Linked DNA regions of Homo sapiens: region 2 is linked to region 1. Evidence: fine-mapped expression QTL. A gene starts in region 1. The other region holds a variant in brackets. All regions are shown on one strand. Distances are from middle to middle. Region 1 holds the start of MRC1 (mannose receptor C-type 1). Region 2 overlaps MRC1 (mannose receptor C-type 1).

What was found. PIP is the estimated chance that this variant, and not a neighbour inherited with it, causes the effect.
Region 2: its variant is fine-mapped to the expression of MRC1 in whole blood (INTERVAL, PIP above 0.99).

The regions. Positions count from the first base shown.
Region 1 is chr10:17,801,111-17,817,839 of GRCh38, forward strand. MRC1 (mannose receptor C-type 1) reads left to right here and starts at 8,238. Exons shown (of 30, transcript NM_002438.4): 1 at 8,238-8,416. The coding sequence starts at 8,356.
Region 2 is chr10:17,822,657-17,839,385 of GRCh38, forward strand. It overlaps MRC1 (mannose receptor C-type 1), which reads left to right. Exons shown (of 30, transcript NM_002438.4): 2 at 418-819; 3 at 4,886-5,059; 4 at 11,019-11,183. Among named protein-coding and RNA genes, the nearest start is that of MIR511, 14 kb to the right of the region's middle. The variant T/G (reference allele first, on the strand shown) is at 8,760.

The sequences.
Region 1 (16,729 bases):
AAGGCCCGAGGGCCCCTGGCAAACCACTGGTGTAGGTCCAAGAGTCCAAAAGCTGAAGAACATGGAGTCCAATGTTGGAGGGAAGGAAGCATCCAGCACAGGAGAAGGATGGAGGCCAGAAGACTCAGCAAGTCTAGTCCTTCCACGTTCCTCTGCCTGCTTTTATCCTAGCTGTGCTGGCAGCTGATGAGATGGTACCCTCCCAGATTGAGGGTGGGTCTGCCTCTCCCCATTCACTGACTCAAATGTTAATCTCCTTTGGCGACACCCTCACAGACACACCCAGGAACAATACTTTGTATTCTTCAATCCGATCAAGTGGACACTGAATATTAACCGTCACAGCTCTTATACAATGTTCAGCTTCCTGGTTGTCTGTCTCACATCCACCTTCTGTGCTCTGTAGTAATCGAATCCAAACACACAAACAGTAGAGTCAGAAGGTGAAAAAATAGAGAAACAGAGAGCCATGTACACCTGCCCACACAGAGACACTGAGAACCAGATCCAACTGCATTCGAAAGGTGTTTCCAATGTTTACAGGTGAGATTAATTAATGAATTCTAAATCATACAGCGCCCCTTCAGGTTGAACAATGCACAACCTCTACATCCCTGAGTACTAGTGATTAATAGCTTTAGTAACCTGAGATATTTGTATTAACAATTATTTACAAGAGCTTTTACATATATTACCATATCCTGAAGATTATTTTTTGGAAATTTCATTAATTTGTCATTTGACAAATTTGAGTGCCTGTTATAGACTAGGTATGGTTTTATATGAATTTGAGGATAATATTTACTAAAGTAACACTTGCTGTGAAAGTGTGCATTTATATATACACACATCTTAATTTCCCAAGATATGCCTATTTTTAATAAGATTATTTTTTATTTTAACTTGTAATTATTCTTATATTGAAATGGAAATAATGGATTTTTAAGGAATGCCTTCTTTCTCTACAAAACTTTTTTCTTTTAAATATTTAACTCAGATACCTTAGAGGTGTTCAGAATATTTGAGTGAATAAATAGAAAATTTGCGTTTCAAATTGCTAAAAATTATACATAATCTTACATAGTAAGTGTTGTTCTGAAGAACCAGCCCAACATTGTTGTGTCTTGGTTTCCATCTGTAAAGTATAGGTCACTTTCAGATTATAAACACATGTTTAATCTTATTCTTAAAATTTGTTTCTGCCGGGCGCAGTGGCTCACGCCAGCACTTTGAGAGGCCGAGGCGGGTGGATCACGAGGTCAGTAGATCGAGACCATCCTGCATGCTGTCTAACACGGTGAAATCCCATCTCTACTAAAAATACAAAAAATTAGCCAGGCGTAGTGGCGGGTGCCTGTAGTCCCAGTTACTGGGGAGGCTGAGGCTGGAGAATGACGTGAACCCAGGAGGCGGAGCTTGTAGTGAGCTGAGACTGCGCCACTGCCCTCCAGCCTGAGTGACAGAGCGACACTCCATCTCAAAAAAAAAAAATTTGTTTCAAAAATTAAATGGGTCAAATAGCCTTTTAATTAAATTACTTTGTAAAATTTAGTATATTAAAACGATGTGTGCCAAGACAAAACCAAATGAAACAAAGTATTGGTTATAGAAATACAAAATTCAAAGGTCCTTCAAATACTATGAATCTACACACTGTTGATTACAATAAGTCTAAATATGTTATCTGAAGACAGTTACAATTAAAGCCTAATTTTATGTAAGTAATTGAATGCAAAGAAATTGGATTGCTATGATATAGTAGTTTTCTATTAAACTGTAAATGCATTGTTGATGTTTTGCTATGGTTTTGGTAAGGACTGAAAAATATGAGGTATAAGAACATCTAAATTTTTAAATTTTTACTCAAAAATATCTTTTTTTTCTTTTGGCTGGTAGGAATTATGTTGATAAGAGTTGAATAAATTTGTTCATTAAAAGATAGGCTTACTGAAAACACCATTTCTGAAGGGCTTACCAGTTTTATCTGTGAGAAATGATGTAACAGGTTATGAAAAATTTTGCCCAGCTATTTTTCTTGGAACTATTTCAGAGCAAAGCAGACACTAAGTTCATCATACGTGAAACTGAGTGGGTAGGAGGTGGCTGGTGTTTGAGAAAGTCTAGGAGGAAATGACACAGTTGATTGTCTTGCCAATAAAAAAATGAGAATTTCCTTTATATTTTAGCTTGAAGAAAGGACTAGTTAAAAATAACCACCATCATCAATAGCTAACCAAAATTCAGAACCAGAACTTAGTAGAAGGGTGTAGACAGGATGGCATGAGTTGGATTTTTAAAAAAGTTTGGTAAAGGATACATAACACAATTATTATTGTAGTCATTTCAACTGTACAATTCAATGGCTCTAAACATATTCACCATGTTGTTTAACTATCACCACTCTGTATTTCCAGAACTTTTCATCATCCAACATCCAATGGGCTCTGTGCCCATTAAACAATAACTCTCCATTCTCCTCCATCCTCCACCTCCCACCCCTTAGTAAACTCTCTTCTTCCTATGTCTCTGAATTTACCTATTCTATATACCTCACATAAGTGGAATCACATAATATTTGTCCGTTTATGTTTGGCTTATTTCACTTAGCAAAATGTTGAAAGGTTGTACATATAGCAGGTATCAGGATTCCTTTTTACGGCTCTATAATATCCCACTGTATGTTCATACCACATTTGTTTATCTGCTAACAGACACCTGAGTTGCTTCTACTTTTTGGCTATCATAAGTAAAACTTCTTTGAACATTGTTGTACAAATATGTGTTTGAGTCCCTAATTTCAGTTCTTCTGGGTATATACCTAGAAGTAGAATTGCTGGATCGTATGATAATTATAGTGTAACTTTGTGAGGCATTGCCAAGCTGTTTTCCGCAGTGGCTACACCATTTTACATTCCCGCCAGCAATGCCCGAGGGTTCCAATTTCTCATATTCTCACCATCACTTGTTATTTTCTGTTTTTTTAAAGTAATAATTCTTTTGGGTGTGAAATTCTATTTCATTGTAGTTTTGATTTACATTTCCCTAATGACTAATGATGTTGAGCATCTTTACATGTGCTTAGCTTATTGGCCACTTGTATATCTTCTTTGGAGAATTATCTGTTCAGGTCCACCGACCATTTTGTATTTGGTTTTGTTGTGGTTATTGAGTTGTAGTTGTTAATATATTCTGGATATTCATCCCTTAATCAGATATGTGATTTACAGATATTTTCTATTTTGTGCTGTCTTTTCACTTTCTAGATAGTGTACTTTGGTGGACACAGTTTTTAACTGTGATAAAGGCCTTTTTATCTACTTTTTTATTGCTTGTGTTTTTGGTATCCAATCCAAGAAATCATTGTCAAATCCAATGTTGTGAAGATTTTATTTCCTGACGTTTTCTTCTAAGAGTTTTATAGTTTTTAGCTCTTATGTTTAGGCATTTGATCCACTTTGGGTTAATTTTTGTATTTAATGTAAGGTAAGAGTCCAATTTCATTCTCTTTCCTGTGGATGGCCAGTTTTCCCAGCACAAATGCTGTTCTTTCCTCATTGAATGCTTTTGGCACCTTGTTGGAAATCAACTGCCCACATAGGTTTATTTCTGGCCTCTCTATTGTATTCCATTGGCCTATATGGCTATCCTTATGCCTGTACCACACTGTTTAGATTACTGTCATTTTGTAGTATGATTTGAAATCAGGAAGTGTGAATCGTTCAACTTCATTCTTTTTCAAAATTGTTTTGGCTGTGCAGACTCCCATGAAATTCCATATGAACTTTAGGATGGGGTTTTTCATTTCTGCAAAAAAAAAAAATCATTGGGATTTTGATAGGGATTGCATGAATCTATAGATTATATTGGATAATATTGACATCTTAACAATATCAAGTCTTCCATTTCATGAACACAGGGTATCTTTTCATTTATTTAGGTCTTTTTCTTTCAGCAACCATTTGTAGTTTTCAGTGGACAAGTCTTTTGTCTACGTAGTTAAATTTATTCCTAAGTATTTTGTTCTTTTTGATTCTATTGCAAATGGAATTTTCTTAATTTTATTTTCAGATTGTTCATTACAAGTGTATCAAAATTCAACTGATTTTTGTGTTTTGATTTTGTGTCCTGCAACTTTGTTAAATTTGTTAGTGCTACAGTTTGTGTGTGTGGTGTGTATGTGTGTGTGTGTGGCGTGTGTATGTATGTGTGTGTGGTGTGTGTGTGTGGTGTGTATGTGTCTATTGTGTATGTGTATGTGGTATTTGTGTGTGGTGTGTGTGTGTGTGTGTGTGTGTAAGCTTTAGGACTTCCTACATTTAAAATCAGGCCATCTGTGTACAGAGATAATTTCACTTCTTCCTTTTTAATTTGGATGCTTTTATTTATTTTTTTCTTTCCTACATGCTCTTATTAGAACTTCCAGTACTAAGTTGAAGAGAAGTGATGAAAGCAAATAAAAGCACCAATCAGAACACACAGTCCTGACATTTGGAGGGCTAAATCCTTGTTGCCCGGCCTGGCCTCACCTAGCTGCACTGGGCGTGTGGGCTGCTTCCCCCTTCACAGCTGCCTGACACAGCCATAACCACAGGGAGAAGCTGAAATTCGCTGAAATGTACCAGCCTCTTTATCAAGCTCTCCCTTGGATGCTCCAAGTTTCTGACTAGACTAGTTCCCAAATACAGATGGTCCTTGACTTAGGATTGTTAGACATAATGATTTACCCACTTTATGATGATGTGAAATAGAAATGGTGCATTCAGTAGAAAATGTATTTCGAATACCCATACACCCATTCTGCTTCTCACTTTTAGTACCATATCCAATAAATTACGAGATACTCAACACTGTATTATAAAATAGGTTTTGTTAGATGATTTTGAAATAGAAGAGTTCCCTTATGACCCTCGCAGGGGGTGCGACAGGAATGAGGCTTGCTCCTTTGGTGCCCTGCTGCTCAAACCCCTAGGGGGGAGCATGCAGCATGCAGATGGGCAGGTGCAGAGGCTGTGGGGAGTGCTTTTGGGCTCCACCCCACGGCAGCATCTAGGACTCCTGAAGCCCAAGTGGGCGTGTGTTACAGTGTGCTCTTTCAGCTATACCATCTGCAGACAGCTTGTGTTAGTCAGCTCAATAGACCCTCTGCCTTATCACAAGGACAGGGAGGCAGTGTGACAGCCTGAGTTCTTGCCCAGTGTACTGGAAGAATCAGATCACATGTGGGCTGGAGGGTTGAGTGCAAGGTTTTATTGAGTGGTGTAGGTGGCTCTCAGCGAGATGGATGGGGAACTGGAAGTGGGGAGTGGAGTGGGAAGGTGGTCTTCCCCTGGAGCCAGGCTGCCTAACCCCCCAGACTATTCTCCAACCACTGCTGGCCAAACTCCCCTTGGTGTCCAGATGTCCTTCTTCTCTCTTTCTCTGCTGCGCCACCCCACTGCTCTCCACTGCTCTATTCCTTCACTCTTCTCAATGTTTAGCGCTTGTGTCTATGCCCATTAAGGTCTCAGGTTTTTATGGGCACAGGATGCGGGGTGTGGTGAATCATAGTGGTCTTGGAAATGTAACATTTGCGCATGAAAACAGGAGTGCCTGTTCCCACTTAGGTCCGTGGGCACAGGTCCGAGGGTGGAGCCCTCGCCAGGGATCCTGCCCTTCTCTACCTAGCACTTCTCTGCCTCCTGTCCCTATCAATTTTGCCCAGTTGGAAGCTAATGTAAGTGTTCTCAACACGTTTAAGGTAGGCTACGCTGAGCCGTGATGTTTGGTAGGTCAGGTGTATTAAGTGCATTTTTGACTTAGCATATTTCAACTCACATTGGGTTTAACAGGGCCTAATTTGATCATGAGTAGAGGAGCACCTGCAGTTACTTCAGTCAGTTCCTGTCCATTTGATGGCTGCTTAGATGGAGGGATGAATTCCTGGAGTTTCCCACACCACCATCTTCTGTGACATCCCTTCCCCAAGATTTGGATTTATTTTTTGCCCCAGTGGCCTCTTGTAGCCTGATAAATCTTTGTTTCAACGAGGTCAAGGTCATGGGGTAAATTCTTTGTGGGGTGGTTGGCTGCATTTTGTTTAAACTTCACAGATTTTAGTACTGATCCTAATTTTTAATTTTACTAATGTGATATACACACTTATGTAATTAAAAAACAAACCCTGGGCCAGGTATGGTGGCACACGTCTGTAATCCCAGCACTTTCAGAGGCCAAGGCGGGCGGATCACTTGAGGTCAGGGGTTTGAGACCAGCCTGGCCAACATGGTGAAACCCCGTCTATACTAAAAATGCAAAAAATAGCTGGGCATCATGGCACGCGCCTGTAATCCCAGCCACTTGGGAGGCTGAGGTAGGAGAATCGCTTGAACCCGGGAGGTGGAGGTTGCAGTGAGCCCAGATTGCACCACTGCACTCCAGCCTGGGCGACAGAGCAAGACTCTGTCTCAAAGAAACAAACCAACCCTGAATGTGATTATATACATAATTCAATTAAATGTATTTGCTTCTGAAATATATATAAATGTAAATTAGGCAGTCACTTTTGTATATGATTTATTTATATTTGAAAGCCACAAATGACCCATTTAAACTATTATTTTCATAAGCCAGTGAAACAATGTCTGAGAAACATTTTTGTTTTGTCTGTTCTGTTCTATAACCATCATTTTTTTTTTCAGTCATGTACAGCCTTAGTGACAAAGAAACTTTGGTCCTCTGTCCTACATTTTCACTATCTTTTTCCCTCCGGTCAGGATAATCTCAAATTTACATGTTAAAAACAATCAGTAAGAGAACTACATCACATTTCTAATAGGATGGAAACTTTTCAACTTTATCACAAAGACAACGAATGTGGAGGCTTTCCGTTTGAAGATAAAACTATTCATTTAAAAAATTTTAAAAATTACAATGTTTCCAGTAGCTTCTTTTTGAATTACTAACATATTCCACACTCTAGTAACGGTTTGGCCAGCTAATCGTTAGTTTCTGCTTTAAAATGTTCTAAATTCCTGTTCTACTTTTGAAAAATGACAACATAAATGTTTGGAGGGTTATTTTCTGCTTAATGAAAGATCTAGAAACATATTTTATTCTAAGAAAGAATTCCACTTGCCTTTAAATAAAGATATACCTTTTGACCAAACAATCAGATTTTCTTTTTCTTTTTTTTCTTTTCTTTTTTTTTTTTGAGATGGAGTTTCGCGTCTGTCGCCCAGGCTGGAGTGTAGTGGTGCGATCCTGACTCACTGTAACTTCCACTTCCCAGGTTCAAACGATTCTGTTGCCTCAGCCTCCTGAGTAGCTGGGCTTACAGGTGTGCATGATCACACCCGGCTAACTTTTGTATTTTTAGTAGAGACGGGTTTTTGCCATGTTGACCAGGCTGGTTTCAAACTCCTGACCTCGGGTGATCTGACTGCCTCGGCCTCCCAAACTGCTGGGATTGCAGGCGTGAGCCATTGTGCCTGGCCAGATTTTCTTTTTCTAGCAAGGGGACCCACTTAAACTTGAAGAGGACCGGGATGGTTGAGGCTGGGCAGCAAGGCTTTACTGCAAATCCTTTACCACTGTTTTTTCTGGCTTTCTAGAGAACGTTCTAGCAAAAGGTTTCTAGAACTTTCTCCTTCCTGGCCTGACTGACATTCCCTCTTAGGTGTAGCCTCCTTTTCACTTTTCTTCTGCCTGGAGGAAATGAAGCTCCACGGAACTTTCTGTTGAAACTTTCCAAGAAAAAAAAGAAAGGCTCTAAGCACTGAATGTGGAAACTGAAGGGGATGAGCTTCAACTCTGAAGTGTTTCCAGCGTAAAACTGTCCTTTCCAGGGCCCGTGTGGCTGTCACTTCAGAGTGGAGGTTGTCTGCTGAGGGACCCCTGACTCAGCTGCTTCCCAGGGGAAGCTCCGTCTTCCGGCACAGGTAATGGCCTGCAGCTTGATCTCCACCCAGCCCCATCTGAGCAGGCCGGGAGCTCCCAGGCTGTTTCACTTCTCTCCTTCCTGACTCCTCACCATCACCATCGCCCTCTCTCCTCCCCACCCCGCCACTCCTCTCCCACACGTGTCCCTTTCTCCCCTTCCTCTGCGTCTGCTCTTCTCAGAAGTTAGCTTACGAAGCAAAGTTGTTACTTTGAATTCCTGTTTTTCCAGCCACCCTCATGTGACAGGATGTCTCCTCAGTAGAGGCTTTCCCTAAATTCAGGAGCCCTTTAAAAGGGAGGGCTTCCTCTGTAGTTCTTTTCAGCTGGGCAGCTCTGGGAACTTGGATTAGGTGGAGAGGCAGTTGGGGGGCCTCGTTGTTTTGCGTCTTAGTTCCGCCCTCCTGTCCATCAGGAGAAGGAAAGGATAAACCCTGGGCCATGAGGCTACCCCTGCTCCTGGTTTTTGCCTCTGTCATTCCGGGTGCTGTTCTCCTACTGGGTAAGTCTGCTCTGAGGCAGGGGATCTCTGACCTGGGGGGCCGGAACCACACCTTCCTCTTCTGGGTTACTGTGAATGGGTTCCTTTCAACATCTTTGTGAGGAGGAAACGGGGTTCCCCTGCACCACGCAGTCCACGGCTAAGCCTGCTGCCTTCACCTGGCGGCCAGGCATGGGAGGCCTGGAGTTGGAGGAGGGAGGAGGATGCGTCTCAGGTCTCGGTTGCTGCCCTGCCGGGAACCCTACAGACCTTCAGTGTCCTCCTGACTTCTCTCATCGCTCGTTGTTCCTTCCCTGTTTTCTTCGTGCAGAAATTTCCTGCTCTGTGGTTTACTCTTTCTGGTTTTCAATTCACACTATTTCTGTCTCACCGCCAACAAACACCTTCTGAGTGTCTCTGGCTGGAAGGAGGGCAGCCCTGATGTCTCCCCGCGTCTTAGGTCCGAGGGTATCATCGCAGATCATCCCCCCAAAAGAGATTCTAAGCAATTTCCATACTCATTTTTTTTTCTGCCAGAATCATTCAGACACTTGATTGTTAGAAAGTTCATCCTTATCTGTATTCTAGACTATTCAAACTGCCGCATAAGCAGATCGATTCCTGTTTTTCTTCTTTTTCTGGAGATTAGAGATTACTCATTAGGAACAGCTCCAGAGTTGTTCAAATTCTCAAATACCTTTTCCAGTCTGTCTTTTCTATTTCTCTATACTCAGTTGCTTAAACTTCAGGATGGGAGTGCCTCGGGGGATTTTCATTCCTGGTTCTATTTGGAGATGATTTAGAAGAGATTTCAAATTTGATTTTTTGATTTCTGATCCCCCTTTAATTCTATGAAATCAACAAACACTTGCAGAGAATGGTTTGTGCCTACGATCTACTCTATGCACTGATGTGAAGGCGGGTGGGAAGTTTCCTAGGAAGAGAGTGTTTTAGTACCGCAAATGTTAAATCATAAGTATTGAGTGGTAGTGATTACAAAAACACAAGTGAAGGCGGTATGGTTTACATCCTGTCTCTCTCACTCACTAGCTTTGCGACCTTGGGCAGGCTACTTTATTTCTTTGTGCTTTAGTTTCCATGTCTATAAAATGGAAAGAATAATATTACCTGCCCCCATCAGTTCTTGTGATGATTCAATGAGTAACAATATGTGAAATGTTTAGAACAGAGTATGACCCATAGTAAGTGCCTTATAAGTGTTAGCTATTAAAATCAGTGGCAGAAAAGAAGTACATAAAAGGCCAAATAAAAAGGATAGATGAAATTAATTTTATTTTTATTTTTGAGACAGATTCTCATTTTGTTGCCCAGGCTGCAGTGCAGTGGCATGATCTTGGCTCACTGCAACCTCTACTTCCTGGGTTCGAGTGATTCTCCTGCCTCGGCCTCCCAAGTAGCTGGGATTACAGGCATGCACCACCATGCCCAGCTGATTTTTGTAGTTTTAGTAGAGACAACGTTTCACCATGTTGGCCAGGCTGGCCTCGAACTCCTGACCTCAAGTGATCTGCCCTCCTCAGCCTCCCAAAGTGCTGGGATTATAGGCATGAGCCACAGCGCCCAGCCCTGATATTATTAATGTATTTTATTTCACCCAGTAACTCGGAAATATTATCCCTCAACATTTAATCGATTTGGAATATTTTCCCATTCATTTCTTAAAACTAACTCTTCAAAATCTGGTGAGTATTGCATACTTATAGCATGTCTCAATTCACAGTAGTGTCATTTTAAGTGTACAATGGTTACATGAGGTGACTGGCTATCATACTGGGCAGCACAGACACAGTGCCTAATTTTCTTTAAACTGACTCAATAATGCTTTGAGCAATAGTGTTTCTCGGTTTGCTCAGGAGTGTTTCCCTCTTCCTGACAGCAGGATGCCCTCCTCTGACTAATGTCTTCCTCTTCATAGGCACAAATATTGGGGAGAGAAGGGGGATGCTGAAGATCTGTTTACTTGGAGAATAAACAAACAAAAAATTCAAGGGACCCCCCTTCCAGATTTTTTTTTCCTACGTGAAAGCCTGTAATTTGTGTTGTTTTGTTTTTTGAGACTGGTTTCACTCTGTCACCCAGGCTGGAGTGCAGTGGTGTGATCATGGCTCACTGCAGCCTTGACATCTGGGCTCATGCAATCCTCCCACCTTGGCCCACTCCCAACTCCCCAGTAGCTGGGACTTTGGGCTTGAGCCACTATGCCAGGCTAATTTTTAATTTTTTTTATTTTTTTTTATTTTTGTAGAGATGGGGTCTCACTATCTTGCTCAGGCCGATCTCAAACTTCTGGGCTCTGGTGATCCTCCCACTTTGGCCTCCCATAGTGCAGGATGATAGATGTGAGCCACTGCACCCAGCCTGTAACTTTTATTTTATCTTTTCTTGGCCCGAGAAGCATGTGATTGGAGGAATTTGTGTAAAGGCAGGGCACCTGCTTAGTTAGCAGCAGGTTAAACTATGCGAAGCCCCAACACCTCTCCCCTGGCTTCCTGCCCACTAGGAAAACCCATGGGAAGGTCTCCCTACTTGCCATCAGTTTATTTCTTTTCAATCCACACCCCTTCCTTCCACCTTCAGGAGAGCATCCCACAGCATTAGCACCATAAGTCTCTGTGGGCTGCTGCCAACGGATGGGCTGGTTCTCCCTGGAGGGGTCCAGGAGTCTAGAGGTTAACAGGGCTAGACGCTCACCTTTCCTACTGTTGTTCTTGCCGCACTATCTTTTTAGCACTCAGCAGCAAGGTTTCCAGCTCAGTTGGGTTATAATCATGGTAGATGCACCATGAGAGCCGGTGGGACACAGAGGTTAGACCACAGCAAAGAAGTTTAACTTGGAAATGGGAGGGTTTGGCTCACAGGTAGTGGTGTATTGGCAAACAACTACTGGTTCCAAGAAGGAAAAGAAAGGAAGCACTGATTTGACTTATGCTGTTTTGCTGTTTACTGATGTCCATGCTGTAAATATTCCCACCATGGTTGATTTCAAGCTACTGACTTGATGCCCCTGGGGGCAGAGTTGGGAAGAGATGCCAACAGTAGGCTTTTTTTTTTTTTTTTTTTTTTGAGATGGAGTCTCTCTCTGTCACCCAGCCTTGAGTGCAATGGTGTGATCTTGGCTCACTGCAACCTCTGCCTCGTGGGTTCAAGCAATTCTCCTGCCTCAGCCTCCCGAGTAGCTGGGATTACAGGCACCCGCCACCACACCCGGCTAATTTTTTCTATTTTTAGTAGAGATGGGGTTTCACCATGTTGGCCAGGCTGGTCTTGAACTCCTGACCTCGTGATCTGCCCACCTTAGCCTCCCAAAGTGCTGACATTACAGGCATGAGCCACCACACCTGGCCAACAATAGGCTCTTGCTAGCTGCTGCTATTGGTCCCAGGGCAATATGGAGCCTTTCTAGGCTCTGGGAAGGCGCTCAAACAGTGGGTCAGGTAGTATCATGAAAAGCCTAGAACATCTGCAAAAAATGATAATGAGAGACGTCTTGGTGGACAGAGAAGCCTTAGAATCATAGACCATTAAAGCAAGAACAAACTAGGAAATGATGCATTTTGACATCATCATTTTATAGATGAAGCACCAGGCTCAGGGAGGTAAAATGTCCAGAAGGTGACTGTTTAGCAGGTAGATGTAGATCCAGGACTTTGCTCAACGGCTTGTACTTTTCCACATCCCCTTAGATTTCTTGCTGCGCTGTTAGATCAAGTAAGTGCAAATTAGGTTATTCCTGTTGCCATTTGCGGGTCTCACATTTGGCTGGAAGGGATCCAACTGTGGTTCTGACATAGACATCACGCTAATGGTATAATCCTGATACTCCTCTATTTCATTTCCCTCGTTGAAATGCTAAGAAAGATAATTATTATCATGTGATTATCACAGTAGTGGTTTTTCACAAGCACTCTTGAAAACTTTGATTCCAATATAAATGTATGTCTTATGGTAAATATTGATTCTTCAGTGTATTTTTTCACAAAACTGAATTAAGTGGGAGAAAAATACAAGCACCTTTCTCCTTTTTAAATTTGTTCTCCATCTTTCTCAGTGTTTGTATCTAGAAGGCTGAGCTAACTTTTATGCTTTGGAACATAGGGCTAGATTTTATATATATAAATATATACATATATATATATACACACACACACACACACATTATATATATATATATATATTTTTTTTTTTTTTTGAGACAGGGTCTCACTCTGTCATCCAGGCTGGAGTGCAGTGGCATGATCATTGCTCACTGTAGCCTTGACTTCCCGGGGTCAAGTGATTCTCCCACCTCAGCCTCCTAAGTAGCTGGCACCACAGGTGCATGCCACCATGCCTGGCTAACTTTTGTGTTTTTTTGTAGAGATGGGGTTTTGCCATGTTGTCCAGGCTGGTCTCAAACTCCTAGGCTCAAGTGATTTGCTCACCTCGGCCTCCCAAAGTGCTGGGATTACAGGCATGAGCCACCATGCTCAACCTTAGGTTTTGACAGTTGTGCAGCTTTTGGTTTAATCTACAAATATTGCACATGAATAACTGTAGTAGAAACTTAGACCTCAGGGACCCATAGCTTCCCATAAAGCAGATGGGAAGATGTCATTGTGCACCTTTCCCTATGTGAGAAAGTTGAAGCTCTGAAGATTCAGTGGCTTGCAGAAGTCAGGTAGTCAGTAAAGACCAGAGCTAACTCTTCATTATGATCTTTAGACTCTGAGGCTAAGAAGTAGATAAATTTACTACCTGGAGTGTGTTGATCAGGAAAGATATAATGTGGTTCAAAATAACACTATGTTAGAAGAAGGACTTAGATCCCTTTATCTGTATCAATTTTTTTAGACTTTTCACTTCAAGAGGGGGAAAGGAAGGAATTAATATTTATCAAGTGTGTATTAGATGCAGATAATATGCTGGGTGCTTTACATAAATGATCTCATTTAGAAATTCACGGTAGCTTTACCAGACAGCATTATTGTCCCCATTTTACAGATGAGGAAGTAGAGGCTAGAATGGCTAATAGCACTAAGGCATCACAGCTAAAAAATGGTGGAACCAGGATTTGATTGCAAGCCTATCAACCCCAAAGAAGATAACCCTCCACACCACATCCCCTGAGGCTAGAAACCCTGCAGTTCCGTGTTCTCGGTCCTTCCGTCCCTCTTTTTTTTTTTTTTTTTTTTTTTTTTGAGACAGAGTCTCGCTCTGTCGCCCAGGCTGGAGTGCAGTGGCGCCATCTCGGCTCACCGCAACCTCTGCTTCCTGGGTTCAAGTGATTCTCCAGGGATTATAGGCGTGCACCACCCTGCCAGGCTAATTTTTGTATTTTTAGTAGAGACGGGATTTGGTCATGCTCACCAGGCTGATCTCGAACTCCTGACCTCAGGTGATCCCTCCTGCCTTGCCCTCCCAAAGTGCCGGGATTACAGGCGGGAGCCACCGTGCCTGGCCGGTCCCTCTTTCTGCACTGCTGCAACAGTTCTCTGCTCTTTCATTTCATCTTATTCTGAAACATCTCACACTGTCTGTACGACTGATTTTGCCAAGTTAACAATAATAATAATGAATATATATTAAGCAATTCCTGTGTCAGGAACTCTTCTAAGCACTTTATTTAGATGATCTCATTTCATTCTCACGACAATGAGGAGGTCCTGCTATTTCCCCCTTTATTTTACAGATGGGGAAGTGGAAGCACAGAGTAATGTTGAACTTGGCCAAGGTCACACAGTCAGCGAGCAGCGGAGTCTGTTACCTGGGAGCCAAATCCTAGAGCTCTGATTATGTCATGATCAGATTGACATGATACATACATAAGGTGAACGAATTAGTGGGGCTATGCATGGAAGAAGAAAGAGCAGTGTGGTGTCAGCTTCTTACCTAGTAAAGGGTTTTGTTTATTTATCTTAAGGGGGATCTGGGGAGGCTGGCATTCAGAGGCTGAAGAAATAGGAGTGAGAGCAGAAACTAGCTGTGGAGAAGTAGGAGGGTTCACAGTCCAGGACACAGGTAGGGCGGTCAGCAGGAGGAAGGAAGCCTCTTCTACTGACTTGGGAGCGAATGGCCCCGGGAAGGTGTAGATATTCATATCTTTAAGGTGGTAGGAGGGAAGTTGGAAGAGTTTCTTGGCCTCTGTTTTGTCCTTGTGGTCAGACCCATACTGGGTTCATATTATGTACTTTTCCAAATGGCCAGTTGCAATGACCTAAATCAGTAGTTTCCCTGAATATTTTGGGTCTGAATGAAGGATCAAAGTGACAAATGAAGTAATTCTCTGTTTTTTTTTCTTTTGTTCAACATTTCATTTCTTTTTCTTTTCTTTTTTTTTTTGAGATGGTGTCTCACTCTGTCGCCCAGGCTACAGTGCAGTGGCACGATCTTGGCTCACTGCAACCTCCGCCTTGTGGGTTCAAGAGATTCTCCTGCCTCAGCCCCCCATAGCTGGGATTACGGGCATGTGCGACCACATAGGCTAATTTTTGTATTTTTAGTAGAGACGCGGTTCCACCATGTTGGCCAGGCTGATCTCGAACTCCTGACCTCAGGTGATCCGCCTGCCTTGGCCTCCTGTTCAACATTTCTAAGCCTAAGACTGACTAACACCCTCCATCAGCCCCCAGCACCTGGCATAGCTTCTTGAATGTACTAGGTGCAGGGTAAATATTTGTTTTTCACTGAATTTGGGGTCTTTGGGGAAAACATAGGTACATTTATTTAACTGAGGCTGGTGAACATATTTCTTAGTTTGGATTCCCCAAGAAGCTGTCCTCAGACAATTGCACTCTGGTTTGAGGGCAAGTTAGTTTATTTGGGAAGTGAGCCCAGGAAACACTGACAGGGTAACGGGGAAGTGAGACAGAAAGGGAAGGTGTGTGGACACCCAGTGACCGCTGTGGGCAATGGAGTGTAGGAGCTCTGGGCGACGGTGTGGAATGGTTGCCTTGGACTCATCACATCCAAGGTACAAGAGATTTAGAGCCGTCAGCGGTTCTCCTTGGCCTCTGATGAAGGCTTCCTCCTACAGGGCATTCGTTTTCTGACCCATCTAATTTGTGCCATGTTTGAGCCTAGAGGGCTCTGATAGCCAGAAAAAGCCCCCAGGGCAAAAGGCGTGGTGCTGGCGTTTGGGAGTGGGGCCTGCATGCACCTAAACAGCGAAGGCCGAGGAGAAATAGTATAAATCTGGAGGCATCTGCTACAGCTACTTGCTGCTTTTCCTCTTATCTGGCTTCTCTGTCTTCCAGAAGTTATTGTCTTTTGTGTTCCAATGTCAGCATTTTATTTGCTGATAGTCAGGAAAATCTAAAAATGTATAAGAAAATGTAGCATATCATACTTATCTCCCTGAACAATCACCTTTAATAACCAAATTTTCTTTGCTAGTAGGCTTGGGAATTTAATGACTTGTTCAATGTTGCGGCATAATTTTAAAAATGCTTAAAAAAAATCCAGGCCAGGCGCGGTGGCTCATGCCTGTAATCCCAGCACTTTGGGAGGCCGGGGCAGGTGGATCACTTGAGATCAGGAGTTCGAGACCAGCCTGGCCAACATGGTGAAACCTCATCTCTACTAAAAATACAAAAATTAGCTGGGTGTGTGGTGGCACATGCCTATAGTCCCAGCTCCTGAGGAGGCTGAGGCACGAGAATCGCTTGAACCTGGGAGGCGGAGGTTGCAACGTGTTGAGATCACACCACTGCACTCCAGCCTGGGCGACAGAGTGACTCTGTCTCAAAAAAAAAAAAAAAAAAAAGAAAGAAAATCCACACCTATGTTACTGGATGTTTAGTCTTTAATCATTTTTAACCTGAGATATTGGGTTGAAACTTATTGCATGTTACTGGATGTTTAGTCTTTAATCATTTTTAACCTGAGATATTGGGTTGAAACTTATTGCTTCTTTACTAAATGTATTTTGATCCTTGATCTTTTTGCCTTTGAGTTAACCACAGCAGAGAGTGTGCTCAACATGGCAGGAAACTTATGTCTTTTGTTTGTCTTTGTATTGTCATTAGCATAGCATCTGGCGTGTGGTCATTGTTTGTCAAGTATTTGTTGAAAAATTAATGTGAAATTAGTAAGATCAAGTTAGGATGGAAGGAGAATCACTGCAATTCTGGATATAAATTTCTGATGTGTAAGTATTAAAAAAAGAAACTCACATATTAGATCCTACAAAAGAGATTGCAGAGAAATTAAAACAGATCGACTGTGTCGATCTGTTCATCTTTGCCGTATTTCTGTTACAAAAACATAATTGGTATGGACAAAAATAGAATGTTTATAAATGTTGGTGTGGTTAATATTGGTAAAAATGCCACAAGC
Region 2 (16,729 bases), 22 kb after region 1:
CATACATGCATTTAATTTTACAGTTTATTGTATTCGTATTACCCAAATTTTCTTTTCCCAGTTGATATTATTCCTTTCTGTTTTCTGCCTTGTATGTTCCACTCCTGGACAATCCTTGGGCATGTAAGGTGGGACTTTGCATGAGACTCCTCACAGTGAACTAGGACATTTTGAGAACATCCAGCTGAGGGCTGGTACCTTGGCAGGCCCTCAGTCCAGGTTCTCCTTCCAGCTTCAGGGATCCTCGAAGAGAGCTGGCCCAGGCACAGTCATCAGTACCTCTTTTCCTGCAATCTTAAGTCTTTAGGGAAATGGAAGAGTTGGAAACTTTTGACCTAAAAGATCGTCCTTGTTACATGAATCCACTTAGCCATGCTTGCTTTCTTCTTCTTTTCCTGCTTCTTTCTTTTTAAACAGACACCAGGCAATTTTTAATCTATAATGAAGATCACAAGCGCTGCGTGGATGCAGTGAGTCCCAGTGCCGTCCAAACCGCAGCTTGCAACCAGGATGCCGAATCACAGAAATTCCGATGGGTGTCCGAATCTCAGATTATGAGTGTTGCATTTAAATTATGCCTGGGAGTGCCATCAAAAACGGACTGGGTTGCTATCACTCTCTATGCCTGTGACTCAAAAAGTGAATTTCAGAAATGGGAGTGCAAAAATGACACACTTTTGGGGATCAAAGGAGAAGATTTATTTTTTAACTACGGCAACAGACAAGAAAAGAATATTATGCTCTACAAGGGATCGGGTTTATGGAGCAGGTGGAAGATCTATGGAACCACAGACAATCTGTGCTCCAGAGGTTATGAAGGTAAGATGCCTGGAATTTTCACCTTCGTGTTGAAATTTTCTCGTCTTCTTAGTTGGAACCTGATTCAAGAAAATCATCATGTTCTTGTTTGGCGTGTACTAGAAATATCAATTGATCAGCATCTTTGTGTTTTCAACTATTCTGTAGGACTATTCTGAGGACATGATGGTGAATAAATGTGATTAAAAAGTCCTGAATGATACTTCAGCTATTTTTACTTAATGGGAAGACATTCTTTTAACTTTCTCTGAGGTTTTATTTTTTTAACTATGGGCTACATTTTTCAGAAAATCGTTTTCATTGTAGTCTTTGACCCAAAGCCTCCTAGTTAACATTATAAAGTTGTAGTGATAAATACATTTAGCCAAATATGTCTTTTCCTTTAAGTTATCCCTGGAAAAATGATCCATAGAACATTCTTTCCCAATTTAGATTGCCTAAGATGAAATCTCGGCAGATCCCTTGGCGACATGGGATTCTAAATGTTACTGATTTATTTTGTCAGGTTATGGGTATTTAGAGACTGTAATAATCAGAAGATTATAAAATCTCTAGGATTAGCTTGTAAATTAATATGCAGTCTATTTAGTTAGCCATCAGAGAAGGTGATACCTCCAATGCGGTGGGAGGAATCCTCTTATATGTAGTTGGTTTCTTGACCTCTTGAAGGTTAAATAAAATCAGAGTATTTAGTTCTTTCTTATATTGACCAAATTTCACTATCTGGTGGCTGCACAGAAAACAAAACAAAAATACAACACAACTTGAAGGCTTGTTACAAAGGCTGGTCTCTTGAGTCAGATGATGTTATAATCACATTTTAGGTTTGGATACTTCGTTATTGTGAAGTGTTATCTAGAACAACCTCAAGGTCAGAGAAAGAGCCTACTTTTGGGGACAAGAGATAACCTGTTTCCAAAATTGCTATGTTACGGGGCTACTAAGATTGGTTGAACCTAGCTTATCTCAGCTAAGACTGAGCATAGCAATTTAGTTCTTTATAAGGCAATAATTTGTGAGCTTTCCATTTTCCATCTAGGCACAGAAGAAGGGAGAGTAGGAATTGAAGTACGGTGAGAGAAGGGCTCAGAAATAAGTTATTTTGAAGCATTTTTCAAACATAATATAGGTTTAGAAGTGATATGAGGGGCAAGCTAAGTGAACACAAAAAAAACCTTTCAGGAGAAACTCAACAGAAAATTACAAGGAAGGAGAAGGGTGAATTAAACTTGACGGAGTCAAATTCCACAGGTGGGACAATTGTGCTAATTGAGGAGTTTAACTTGAGGAAGATTGGCGCTAAGAAATCGGATTTTTATTTTATTTTAAAATATAATATTATGCTTCCCTCACCCCCTACCCTTTCTGTTTCCCCATTGGTTTTGAGACAAATATACATAGGGTTTGGGCTAATAGTTCTCAAACTTTAATATGCTTAAGAATCACTTGGAAAGTTTGTTAAAAATATAGATCCTAAGCTCCCCCTTCTACTAGATTCTTAATATACATATTGGGAAAAACCCCAGGAATCTATTCAATGATTTCTATGAAGACCCGGGTGATTCTGTGGCATAGGGTCTATTGACTACATTTTGCATACTCCCCAAAGATCTCCCAGCACTTAAGATGATCCTGCTCCTCAGTTCTAGCTCTGCAGAGTGACCACGAGATTGGGAACACACATTAGAACTGAAGACAGTGTCGAGAGGATGTATTGTAGGGTCTCTGTATCTCTGATGAGAACATGGGGGAGGGGTAGAATGGTGGAACTTTTTGAAAATAGGAATTATTTTAGAAGAATGGAACCAGAATTGTAGACTTAGATGGATTTGATGGTTATTTGGAAGTTCAGACTCCAAGAAGAAGACAAATTGACTGCAGTTACATGATGTGTCAGTGGGGTAGTTGGGGTTCTTTTGGCCTCATCAGTGTTGGGTGTATAGAATGGCTCAGTAGTTATTAAACAGAGTTAGTTAATAAAGCTGGCAGGCGTGGTGGCTCACGCCTGTAATCCCAGCACCTTGGGAGGCTAAGGCAAGAGGATCACTTGATTTCGGGAGTTCAAGACCAGTTTGGGCAACCTAGTGAGACCTAAACAAAATGTAAAAATAAGCTTGGTACTGTGGTGTTCACCTGTAGTCCGAGGTATTCAGGAGGCTGAGGTGGGAGCATTACTTGAGCCCAGGTAATTGAGGCTGCAGTGAGCCATCATTGCGCCACCTACTGCAGCCTGTGTGACAGAGTGAGATCCTGTCTCAAAAATAAAATAAGTAAATAAAGCTATATGTCATTGGCATCTGTAAATCCAGCGCTGAACATTTCTTGGCTAATGATGACCAGTACAACTAACCCCAAGGTGGTCTTGACTGGTTTCCTTTGTACGAAGAAACAGTCATCCCAGTGACTAAGAATGGCGCAATTATTTCTGAATACAGCGTGTTCCTAATACAATATATGATTTGGAGACCATTCCCATAACTTAGTGGAACTAAAGCTGGAATCGCATTTTAAAGTTATTAACAACTACCTTTTTGACAAAAAAGGAATTTTGAGGTCATTAAAAATAAACCTAATATTTAAAGAGGACTTGATAATTACAATGAGTAAAGGAAAAAGAAAAGAGGTCAATAACTCACATTATTGTGCTCTTACTATGCGCTACATGTTTTACAAGCTTTATATTATCAAAATGACTAAATGTCTTTTAAGAAATTTTTCTTCCTTTTTTTTTAAGATTTATTTTTTGACGCAGAGTCTCACTCTGTCACCCAGGCTGGAGTACAGTGGCGTGATCTCGGCTCACAGCAACCTCCGCCTCCCGGGTTCAAGCGATTCTCCTGCCTCAGCCTCCTGAGTAGTTGGGATTACAGGTGCCTGCCACCATGCCCAGCTAGTTTTTCTATTTTTAGTGGAGACAGGGTTTCACCATTTTGGCCAGGCTGATCTCAATTCCTGACCTCTAGTGATCCGCCTGCCTTGGCCTCTCAAAGCGCTGGGATTGCAAGCGTGAGACAAGCTAAGAACTTTTTCAAGTCGTAGAATCTGCAAAATGTAATGAATTCCTACCTAGGATAAATTCTGAATGTCAGTTGGTGGCAAGAGGTCAAATACTTTAATGTAAAAAGTTGTTATCTCTACAAAGATGGAGACTTTAAACATACTGGACAATGTAGCTATGTGCATTGTTTGGTTCTTAGTGGAGAGATGAGCTTCCTTAACCTTTTTGGCTTAAGCCAAACCATAATCAACAATGATTCTGTGTTTGTTTCAATTAACATTTCTAGTTGAACCCAGAGCTTCCCACTCAATCTGTTGGCCTTAACTTGTTGAAAAGAAAAACCTTGATTGTAGATGGTATATAACAGTTTTGAGTGGTTTCTTTTCATGATAGGGATTAGAGAACAATGCCAAAATGTCTATCCTTCCTTATGGTCATTGTTGAGGAACTCAGGTGAAGGCTGGCTTGACAAGAAGTGGTTGGAGGGGATTTAATTATTGACTATGTGTTTGGGCTATACAGCTTTAAGGTTTTTTTTAATCTAGAGATTCCAAAGCTCCATGATTCCAATCAAGAGAAAGAACTGTTTCAGAGGAAATTCAGAAGTTAAAGCTGGTGTCAATAGAGGAAGGAGGAAAAGACAGTGGAAAATGAAGTGGTACTATGAGTTATTATTACCACTTTAACTAGTATCACTTCATTTTCCACTGTCATTGGTACCACTTTGAATTGTACCATTTGAACATTTTCAAATGGTACAACTTAACAAATTAGTCTCGTTTGAAAATGTCCCAAAACGCAGTGGAAATGAAGTGGTACTAAGAGTTATTTGCTAAGTACAGACAGCTCTATGTACCCAGCAAAAGACTAGGGTAGAAGGAGAAGGAAAAAAAATACCCAAAAAAAAAAAAAAAAAAAAAAAAAAAAAAAAAAAAAAGAAATCCCTCTGTGGGTGCATCAAGTGTAATCAGAACAGTAAGACCAATTCCTTCAGTAGGCTTCTTATTGGAAAGTTAATGTTCAGAAATATCACTCACATTCCAAGTTCAAGTCAATATGTTTTTCCAGCCATGTATACGCTACTAGGCAATGCCAATGGAGCAACCTGTGCATTCCCGTTCAAGTTTGAAAACAAGTGGTACGCAGATTGCACGAGTGCTGGGCGGTCGGATGGATGGCTCTGGTGCGGAACCACTACTGACTATGACACAGACAAGCTATTTGGATATTGTCCATTGAAATGTAAGTACTGTTTATCACCAAGAAAAGTTGGGCACATTTAGTCTGATAATGTAGTGAAAGACCTTGAATTTATCTAGAGCATTTTTCCCCAAAGTTATTTCACATTTACGACCTCATTGTACCTACTACAGCCCTTTACAGACGTTATTATTTCCATTTTCCAATGGAGAAAATGATCTATATTGGCTGAAGACTAGAACACAGATGTTGGACTTTATACTGTAGGCTTTGTATGTGTATTTTGATTTTGCCAGTAAGACTAGAGTCACCCCTACTGTCTCAGCATTCCCTGAGATCATGCTAAGAGGACTAGACTGTACCCCCATGGTCCCAACATTCCCTCCATCAAGTGACCTCTTTATTTATTTATTTATTTTTTGAGACGGAGTCTCGCTGTGTCTCCCAGGCTGGAGTGTGGTGGTGCGATCTCCACTCACTGCAAGCTCCGCCTCCCGAGTTCACGCCCTTCTCCTGCCTCAGCCTCCCGAGTAGCTGGGACTACAGGCGCCCGCCACCACGCCTGGCTAATTTTTTGTATTTTTAGTAGAGACGGGGTTTCACTGTGTTAGCCAGGATGGTCTCGATCTGCTAACCTCGTGATCCGCCCACCTCGCCTCCCAAAGTGTTGGGTTTACAGGCATGAGCCGGCGCGCCCGACTATGACCTCTTTATTTTTACCAACTATCAGTTACTCAGCGAAAATTATCCTGTACACAATATAGTATATACTTAACACGGGAGGTAGGTAGGCATGCTATTATTCCCTCATCTCTGAAATGCCTTACCTTTATGAAACCATAGATCAAAAACAGAATTCAAAGGAAGCCACAAGCATGTGGTTTGATGGAGAAAGACGTGAAGGTCCTGAATTTTGTGTCAATGTCATCAAAAGTGTTCTTCACAGTGAAAATGATAGTCAGGATACTCTTCTTATGTTTAAATTAAGAAGGGTGCCATTTAGTTTCACACAGCTAGAAATCAATGGAACTCGGTAATTTATATGCTTCAAGGTTTCTTAAAAATGAAAATTCAGGTTTTATTGCAAGGATGCAAAATAAGCAGTATCGCATTATCTTAGTGGGAAAGCACCAGAACAGATGAATTCTTGGTGTTCTTCCACGCTTAAAAATCTGTAGGCAAATAGTGAAGCACATTTTAGGTGGAGTGGAGGAGGGCGTCATGTTGAAGGCAGAGCTGGGGCTGAGGAAAAAGGAAAAGGAAGTATTCCTCTTAGCTTCACGTTCCCCATCACCAGACACCCTCCTCCTGATGCTGGCTCCACCCTTCCCAAACTTCTTACCCCCGACCTCTCACCTGCTACTTTAGACCAGATCAGAGTAGCTCTTGTTTCCTGGTTATCACCCAGAACTCTTTCTCCTGCTGCCCTGCAAAGGGACTGGGCAGAGCAAAGAGCATTCGATATGGTCTGGGATGATTGTGACACCACCTGAGTAACAATAGAATCACGACTATCACAACTCAACTTTCCAGACCACAAATCCACAAGTAATCACACTATTTCAAGCATTATTGTAAAACAGAACAACTTAAAAAATACCTGAATTTGACGAACAAAAGCCAGAATTCTAAGAATTGTACTTATTTATCTCTCTGGATTTATAATCCCTAATTATCACACTAAAAGTAAATTTAATTTCTGAGCCCCATATACTATTGTAATTGTCTTCAGAGTGCAGTCTCTCCAATCCGAATGAATACTCACAAAAGCCCATAGGCTTTCTGTTCATAGCGACACTGCTGCCTCGGTCTTAACTGAGGTAGTTCTATTTGTCTCTCTTATGTCAATCTTTAGAAAGACATTTGATTTCCATTCAAGGTTTTTAGATGTCGAATTTTGTATTCGAAGTATTTTTGTCTGAAACACATTGAGCAATTTTTTTCTAAGATAAAGCAATACTTGGTTTTCAAGTGATTGAAAGTGTCTTTCTCCTTTACTTAATAGGAATGATATTTTCTTAATCTGTTTCATGGACTTTCTTAAGGGTATATATTTCATGGGTCCAACTATAGCATCCTCCACATCCTTTGAAATTGACAAAGGAGTTAGATGAATGTGTGATTTCCTGAATGAAATGTGGAGGACAAGTGGTAAGTTACTAATCACAAAGAAAACTCACAATCTTGGAAATCCTTGGATGTGTGTTGGAGACGTATCTTGAGTTTGTTCAGTGGAATAATTTTTTAGTCTTATTACTTGTATTTATGCCTTCACTGTCAAATTATATATTTTTTCCTGTTAAATGTAAAATAATCGTAGAAAATAAATTGATTTGGTTTCAATATGCATTAAAATTTTAAATCACGTTTTGTACATTTAATATCTTTCTTAAAGGGCTTTATAGTCTTCCAGTCTGTTTCATTTTGTGTTCTTTTCAAAAGAGTTTTTATTGTATTTATTTATTTATTTATTTTTGAGACAGGGTCTCACTCTGTCATCCAGACTGGAGTGCATTAGCATGATCTTGGCTCACCACAACCTCTGCCTCCCAGGCTCAAGTGATTCTCCTGCCTCAGCCTCCTGAGTAGCTGGGATTACAGGCACCCACCATCACGCCTGGCTAGTTTTTGTATTTTGAGTAGAGAAGGGGTTTCACCATGTTGCCCAGGCTGGTCTCGAACTCCTGACCTCAAATGATCCACCCACCTCGGCCTCCCAAAGTGTTGGGATTACAGGTGTGAGCCACCGTGCCCGGACGAGCATTTTATTTTATATCAGCCTTAAAAGTGGCAGGTTTTATACAGGAGGATGAGGAACCAGTTATTAACCTAGTAACACTTAGTAGATGCTCTCCATTGTCCGTTGCATTGTTTATTGTAATGCTTTCCTTCCATGTAGACATTTATTTTCAAGTATCGTGAGAACAGGTAAAGGAAAATTCTTGGTTCTCTCAGTTCTCTGTAGCAAGTTTAGCTTCCAGCATCAGTTGTGTTGGTTTACTGTGGGAATTTGAACTCCTTGGGGAGATGGTATGCAATCAGCAAACCTAAACATTAATTGAGAAATATGTTTAAATCCCTTGGTTTAAAATGTACTTTCTTTAAGTGAAAGGTCAATTGCATTTCCTTCTTACGTCATTTATGTCACTTGCCTCCATTCCTAGGTTTAAAAACAACAACAAAACCCTTTTTTATGTCTCACATTTTCTACTATATATATATATATATTTTTGGAGACAGAGTCTTGCTCTGTCACTGAGGCTGGAGTGCAGTGGCATGATCTCGGCTCACTGCAACCTCTGCCTCCCGGGTTCAAGTGATTCTCCTGCCTCAGCCTCCTGAGTAGCTGGGATTACAGGCGCGTGCCACCATACCTGGGTAATTTTTTTTTTTTTTGTATTTTTAGTAGAGACGGAGTTTCACCATGTTGGTCAGGCTGATCGCGAACTCCTAACCTTGTGATCCGCCCACCTCAGACTCCAAAGTGCTGGGATTGCAGTCGTGAGCCATGGCGCCCGCATTTTCTACCATATTATAAACAAAACCTTCCTCCAGTTGTCTAAAACGAGTTGTTTAAAACATCTCTATCTTCAAATATACCCCAAATTAGTCTTATTTGAATGGTCTCACCGACATACACATGAAACTTGCAACACCTCAGATCATTATAATTTAAATTTAGCATTACTGATTCAAATTTATTTTTATATAAGCATATAATGATTTTGTAGTTAAAGCACCT[T/G]AAAAATTTGTATGCTGTTGCCTGAATCAAATTTTGATATGTTTTCTTCCTCTTTGATATGTCATGGGACCACAAGTTTCATATCATGGTGTGTGGTTTGCATATTACAAAAAGGTCTATGATCGCTTCCTCATCAGATATAAAGGGCAATTAGATACAGTTAAGAGTTACAAGAGTGTAGGCTATGTGCTTATGGAAAATTGCCTAATTTCTTAGTAAATTGAGTATTTCTCAGAACATTTTCAGAGAAGTTATATAATACTTCCTTTTTTCCTTACAAATAAATGAAAAGATCATTACTTCACATGGCTTGTAAGCAGAATTTTATATTATTAAAAAGAAAAAAGAAATATTCACTACATGAAGCATGCCAAAATATTTCATTTGTTTACTAGCTTCGCAAACATCATATATGTGAAAAACTATCAATAATATTTATTTGTATATCATTGGCCGCTTACAGAGTACAACCAGGTTTATGGAATTTATTAGGAATCATAAAATAGCAAAGGAAGAAATCAGCTTGTGATTTTTTACTCTGTGGAATGAAAAAGTTACAAGCAACATTTGCTATTGCTAAGCGCTCCACCTGTATTAAATATATTCTAGCAATGAGAAAACGAGACTTCAAAAGTTAATAATTTATCTGAAGTCAAGTCTCCAGTGAGCGATAGGACCTCAGGTGCAGGCCCAGGCCAGTCTGTCTGCAGGAGTCCGTGACCTTCCCTGCTGACAATCTTATGCTTCCAGAAAGACCAAACTAGAATGTGCAGGCAAAGGCAAAATATCCACCTGCTGAGAAGATGTACGTTTATTTTCTTTGCTTCCCCTGCCTTACTTTACTAGATCAAGGAATTTGGGCTGGTATCCGTTCTTTTAAAACATGTTTTATTCACTTTGGGAAGCCGAGGCGGGTGGATCACAAGGTCAGGAGATCGAGACCATCCTGGCTAACACCTTGAAACCCCGTCTCTACTAAAAATACAAAAATTAGCCGGGCGTGGCGGCGTGTGCCTGTCGTCCCAGCTGCTGGGGAGGCTGAGGCAGGAGAATGGCGTGAACCCGGGAGGCGGAGCTTGCAGTGAGCCGAGATTGCACCACTGCACTCCAGCCTGGGCGACAGAGCGAGACTCTGTCTCAAACAAAACAAAACAAACAAAAAAAGTTTTATTTTTATTTATTTAGTTTTTGAGACGGAGTCTCGCTCTGTCGCCCAGGCTGGAGTGCAGTGACGCGATCTCGGCTCACTGCAAGCTCCGCCTCCCGGGTTCACGCCATTCTCCTGCCTCAGCCTCCCGAGTAGCTGGGACTACAGGCGCCCGCCACCACGCCCGGCTAATTTTTTTTGTATTTTTAATAGAGATGGGGTTTCACTGTGTTAGCCAAGATGATCTCCATCTCCTGACCTTGTGATCCGCCAGCCTCGGCCTCCCAAAGTGCTAGGATTACAGGCGTGAGCCGCTGTGCCCGGCTATTTTTATTTTTATATATGTAGGGGGTATATGTGCAGATGTCTTGCATGCATATATTGCATCATGGCAAAGTCTGGGTACCCGAACTGTGAACATTGTACCCAATGGATAATTTTTGAATCCTCACCCTCCCACCCTCCCACCTTTTGTAGTATCCAAGGTCTATTGTCTTTATATTTGTCTCACTTCCCAACTCAATTGATCCCGAAAGGGAAATCGTGCCTGCCTTTCTTTCTTTAGGCATGTGGAAAAGACTGGATGTAGCTGATCCTTTGAAACCTCATCCCCTACTTCCTATTTCATTTCAGGAGTAAAGAAAATCTCAAAGTCATCTTAAAAACAAGTAAAACAGTCCGGGCATAGTAGCTCACCTTTGTAATCCCAGCACTTTGGGAAGCTGAGGCAGGAGAATGGCTTGAGAACAGGAGTTTTAGACTAGCCTGGGCCACATAGAGAGACTACATTTCTGCAAAAAGTTAAAAAGTTAGCCAGGCATGGTGGTGCATGCCTGGAGTCCCAGCTACTCGGTAAACTGAGGTGGGAAGATTGTTTAACCTCAAGAGTTGGAGAGTACAGTGAGCCAGAATCACAGCACTGCACTCCAGCCTGGGCAACAGAGCAAGACTCTGTCTCAAAAAAAAAAAAAAAAAGTAGAAAGGGGGAAAAAAAGAAAGGAAAGAAAGAAAGTGCTTCAGGCAAAAATGCTCCTAGGTGGTTTAAATAATACTATTCACTGGAAGTGTTTTCTATGCATAATGAACCAAATTCCATCTGATTTCTTTCACAGTTGAGGGCAGTGAAAGCTTATGGAATAAAGACCCGCTGACCAGCGTTTCCTACCAGATAAACTCCAAATCCGCTTTAACGTGGCACCAGGCGAGGAAAAGCTGCCAACAACAGAACGCTGAGCTCCTGAGCATCACAGAGATTCATGAGCAAACATACCTGACAGGTAAGGACATGAAAAGTCTCAAGTAAAATCATGACTGCTTTATTTTTATATAATTTAACTTAGAAGTCAACAGCACAAGTGTTTATAGATGTTATGACAGAAGCAATTCTTAAGCAGTTTATGTGGATGTCATGACAAATCTGTACTCTGAAAATGACACCAGGGATGGCAAATAGCTCTCATTTCCTGTGCCAACTATTGGTTTTAAGAGTCTCTAGAGCCAGTGCTAAGAAGGATTCTGAGGGCTAATCTAGAATCAGAGTAAAAGATGCCACAATCGATTAATGATGTCGTTCTTGGACGCAAGGCAGTGGAACAATCCTGGTCAAGTATCCATCATCCAGGTCTAACCTGAAGCCACAGGTCTTTCATTAGCCTCATAGAGGTCAAAATGATAAATTAAAAGACTGCTACCACTGGCAGAGACAAGTCAGAGGCTGTTTTGAAACCCTGAAACCCTGAGTTCTTTTAGCCTCCTGTCCCTCGAACCCCCAGGCTCTACCAGTTTTCAGGTTTTATTGATACTCTTTCCACAATGTGTTTGGTTTTGATGTTGTTTTGTTTTGTGTTGTGTTGTTTTGTTTTGTTTTGAGACGGAGTTTCCCTCTTGTAGCCCAGACTGGAGTGCAATGACGCAATCTCAGCTCACTGTAACCTCCACCTCCCGGGTTCACATGATTCTCCTGCCTCAGCCTCCCACGTAGCTGGGATTACAGGTGCTTGCCACCATGCCCAGCTAATTTTTTGTATTTTTAGTAGAGACGGGGTTTCACTAGGTTGGACAGGCTGGTCATGAACTCCTGGCCTCAGGTGATCCACCTGCCTTGGCCTCCCAAAGTGCTGGGATTACAGGCGTGAGCCACCGTGCCTGGCCAATGTGTTTGTTTTTAAAATATCTGTTTTTATTAGATTGTGAAGACTAAAAGGGCTAAAGTTTGCTTGAGAAGAGAGTATCCGTTTTAGCTTCTAAAATATACACTTGGGGAAACAGAGAGATTAGGATCAGAAATTAGTGTGGGAGCAAAAGCATCCCCGATTTCTTGCCCCCAAAATCTCCTCCCTCCAGTTTTTCTGGACACGGCTATATTAATATTAGTCTGTCTCTGCTCCTATGACTGCCATGTTCAAAAAACCCCTTGTGGCTTCTCATTTCCCATCAAATAATTAACAAAATACATTTTGCCTGACATTCAAGATTGCCACCTGCTGAACATCTGTACTATTCCCGGTCTTGCATTTTGCGGTCACAACAAAAGAAAAGTCAGTCTTGGATTCCTTGTTTTTCCTCATCCATTCTCACCCTCACATCTTTTCCCATGTCATTTCTTTTGCCTGGAATTCTCACGATTGTGTACAGTTGAAATGCAATTCTATTTCCATCTGCATTTCTCTTATTTGCTTATTACCACTTTTATTAGTATAATAGCTACTTACACATATGTCCTGCTTCCTTGACAACACTATAAATACATTAATTTGTTATTATTTATTTACTTATTCATTCATTCCCAAGATATCTTGTACCCATGTGCCAGGCTTTGTGCTAGGTCCTGGGGACATCAAAGCTGACCCTGTCTTGTCCACATGCAGCTTAAAAGTCCAATGGGAAGAAACAGATGTAAACAAGAAAACAAACAAATGAATAGGTACCAATTATAATAAGTCCTGCATGGAAAGCAAACTGAAGGCCATGTGGAGATCGCGTCAGAGGGGGAAATAGCTGAAAACGGGGAATGTCTTGTGAATATTTATGACCCCTCTTCCCCCAAGGAGGTTCACACAGAGCCTTCCAAGGAAGGGTCTCACCAAACATTTGCTGACTGACATGTTAACATGCAACAAAATAAAAATACTTAGAAATTCAGTCTCCTGTTTGGAAAACTAGACAGTCATGGCAAGAAGACAGTAAATGCAGTGGTTCTTCTGTGTGAAGTGGCTTATTCATCACCTTGGAATTCTGTTAAAGTGATGATGCCTGGGCTGAGATCCCGAAGACTCTAGATCAGTAGGTGTGACACAGGGCACAAGAATCTGCCTTTTGTCAAACTCCTGGGTGATTCTGGGGCAGCTGGTTGAAAGACCATATCTGGCAAAACACTGTGTTAGTTCCTGCTGTATCCAGGTGCTAACACCAGGCAGCAGAGCAGAGAGGCTGAGAGCAAAGATTCTGCAGCCAGACTGCCTAGGTCCCAGCTCTGTGAAACTGGGGGAGCTTGTGGGGATTTGCTGAGGCACCTGTGCTTTGGTGACCTTGTCTGTTAAAAGAGCTAATGTGTGTGAGCCAATACAAGGGCAAGAGCACACTCCCTACCTTGCCTCATTTCTTAGCACCTACCTTTTTCCAGCTATTTTCAGATGACACCCGTCACCAACCAGAACACATCTCTCCTATAAGTTATTATTAAGGAGACCGAGGATAGAAAAGCAATATGATGTCACTGTGGATTCATAGTCTTAGAGATAGGGTTCTTCCTCTGTCTGCTCAATTATTCTGTTTTGCATTAGCCTTTGGGACCCTTCTAATAGTGGAACAGAAAGGATCAGAGTGATTCATATTTACAACCATGCACAAAAATAAGGAGGAAGAGGAGAAAGTACAGAATAGACAAAAGTAAATTTATGTAGATGATTAAGGAATAGAAAAGATGATTCGAGGCAGTCTTGTGGTTATTTGGGCAGACTTGCAGGCACGAGAGAAAATGTATCAGAGGTGGTCTGGGCACAGTGGCTCACCCTTGTATTCCCATCACTTTGGGAGGCCGAGGTGGGTGGATCACCTGAGGTCAGGAGTTTGAGACCTGCTTGGCCAACATGGTGAAATCCCATCTCTACTAAAAATACAAAAAATTAGCTGGGCACGGTGGCAGGCTCCTGTATTCCCAGCTACTCGGGAGGCTGAGGTAGGAGAATGGCTTGAACCTGGGAGGTGGAGGTTGCAGTGAGTCGAGATCGCACCATTGCACTCCAGCCTGGGCAACAAGAGTGAAACTCGTCTCAAAAATAAATAAATAAATAAAAATTTAAAAAAAAAGGAAAGAAAATATATCAGAGGTGCAGAGGTGAAATGGTTTCAGTTGATGTGTTTTTGGTTTTTGTGTTTGAATTTATTTGTGGGGTGTGTTATCTCTTGGAAGCCTGGGGACAGAGCACAGGTTACTTTGTGCGCTCTCCACCAGCTACAGAGAAGGAGCAAGTGATCTGAGCGGACAGCGGCTTTGCCCAAGCACAGACTCATTTCCTGGTTCCCGGACTCTGCTATCGGACTCGAGCTGCAGGAAATGCTTCCCTAATCAGCAAGGGCTTTTCTTGTGTCTATCAGGACAGCAAACAAGCCCCAGGAGATCCAGAGGCTGGGTTCACCTCAGATACTTACTTGAATCTTATCCAAGCCTCCGGAATTTCAGTCAGCAAATTTTCACTGGCATCTGGATAAGAATGGCATCTCTAACGAGATTTGTAGTACTTCCTGCCTTTCTTTAAGTAAAAAATGTCAGGCATTAGGACAAGAAAAACTCTGACAGGGAATTTAAAAAATAGGGGAAAGATATTCCCTCCCCACTGTTTATTTGAAAGAAAGGGATGATACTCAGTGTTGATTGAGATATATTGGGGAATAATCCAGAAAACAGTGGTGTGAGTGTGTAATTGCAATCCACTCTATTTTGGAAAATATGCCATTAAAATGAAAAAACAACCTACAAAATATTTACACTTTTAAAATAAGTTTTCTTTTATGTGAGGGTTTTGAAAAGTCTGTATCTTTTTATTTTATTTTATTTTATTTTATTTATTATTATTATTTTTTTTGAGACAAAGTCTCACTCTGTCGCCCGGGCTGGAGTGCAGTGGCACTAGGACTTAAGTGATTCTCGTGCCTCAGCCTCCTGAGTAGCTGGGGCTACAGGCATGTGCCACCAAGCCTGGCTAATTTTTTGTATTTTAGTAGACACAGGGTTTCACCATGTTGCCCAGGATGGTTTTGAACTCCTGAGCTCAGCTGATCTACCAGCCTCAGCCTACCAAAGTGCTGGGATTACAGGCGTGAGCCACCATGCTCGGCCAGTCAGTATCATTTTTTAAAAATGTAGAACCTGGTTTGATGACTCTAATTAAATTGTCTGCCAATTACTGAAGAGCTACTACATACTAGTTTCTGGGCTTTAGTTCTAAAGCCCACAGCAACCTCATGAATAAATATTATTAGCCCCACTGTATAGATGAGATAACAGACTAGGAGGGAGAAGTTAGGAAACTTGCTTAATGCCTCCTGTTTAGAAAACAGCTGAACTGGAATTCAGCCCTGTCTTCCATTTCACCCTGCCTGTGTCTCACGCACAGAACACCCGGGGATCCGCTGGTTCCCAAAGCACTGATGAGAACCCTTAATTTTGTCAACATTTCCTGGCTCCAGTAAATGTGTTCCAGATTGGTGGTGATCTGATTTCATATTATCTGCCAGGTGAAATGTTTCTGCCTGGCAACACGTTTGCACACTACCCACAGCTGTTTTATCGTCTTCCCTTCTGTTTCTACCCCGAAAAATGTTGGGACGCTCTATGGAGTCTCTGAGTCCTGAATCAGATTTGTGGCTCCGTATGTGCAGGATGAGGATTTACAGAACTGAAATAAGATATAGGAAGTGAAATTTGGCTTGTTTCCCCGATGGTTTTTACCAGTTTCCTTTGGTACTGCCTGAAAAACACATTGGACCTCAATTAAAAAAAAAAAAAGAAAGTAAAAAAAACAGTGTAATATTGGACATTTGTGTATCTTCTATTACATCTAAGTTCAAAAGTTGGTATATAACCATTTCAGACAATATATGCAGAAAAGTTACGCCTTGAGCATGTGAGGCTGGGCGCAGTGGCTCACGCCTGTAACCCCAGAGCCTTGGGAGGCTGAGGTGGGAGGATTGTTAGAGTTCAGGAGTTCGAGATCAGCCTGGGCACTACAGTAAGACCCCAACTGTACAAAAAAAATTTCTGGTTTGAGTTGGTGTCTGGAAACAAAACAAACAACAAAAATTTAGCATGTGGAATTGTTGCTTTGTGCAGCAATACTAAAATATTTTGGTCTGCTCTTTTATAAAATTACAAAAGCATATTAGAGAAAATTATTTGTGGACAACACCCATCTGCTTTAAGAGATATATTTTAACCCAAGATTTGAATTTTGCTTCTAAGTCACACCTTTGCCAACCTTAATATGAAGCTATTGATAATAATAATAATAATGGTAATAATAACAGTAGTAACTTATATTTATGGGGCATATACCATATGTCAGGCCTTGTTTTAAAAAGTATTAACTAATTCAGTTCTTCAAGACAAGTTTATAAGTACTTAGAGCTGGTAAAAGATGTCAAAAGGTAATTCTCTTAAAGAGCTATTATCATTTCTCATGATGCCAAACATAGTAATTTAGTTACGCAGTCTCAATATCTACTTCAGTTCTTCTTTAATCAGCGAATTATTTATAATTTTTAAAACTTAAATACACTTATTTTCGTAATTAAGTTTTTTAAAATCCCTGAGTAAATTGGTTTT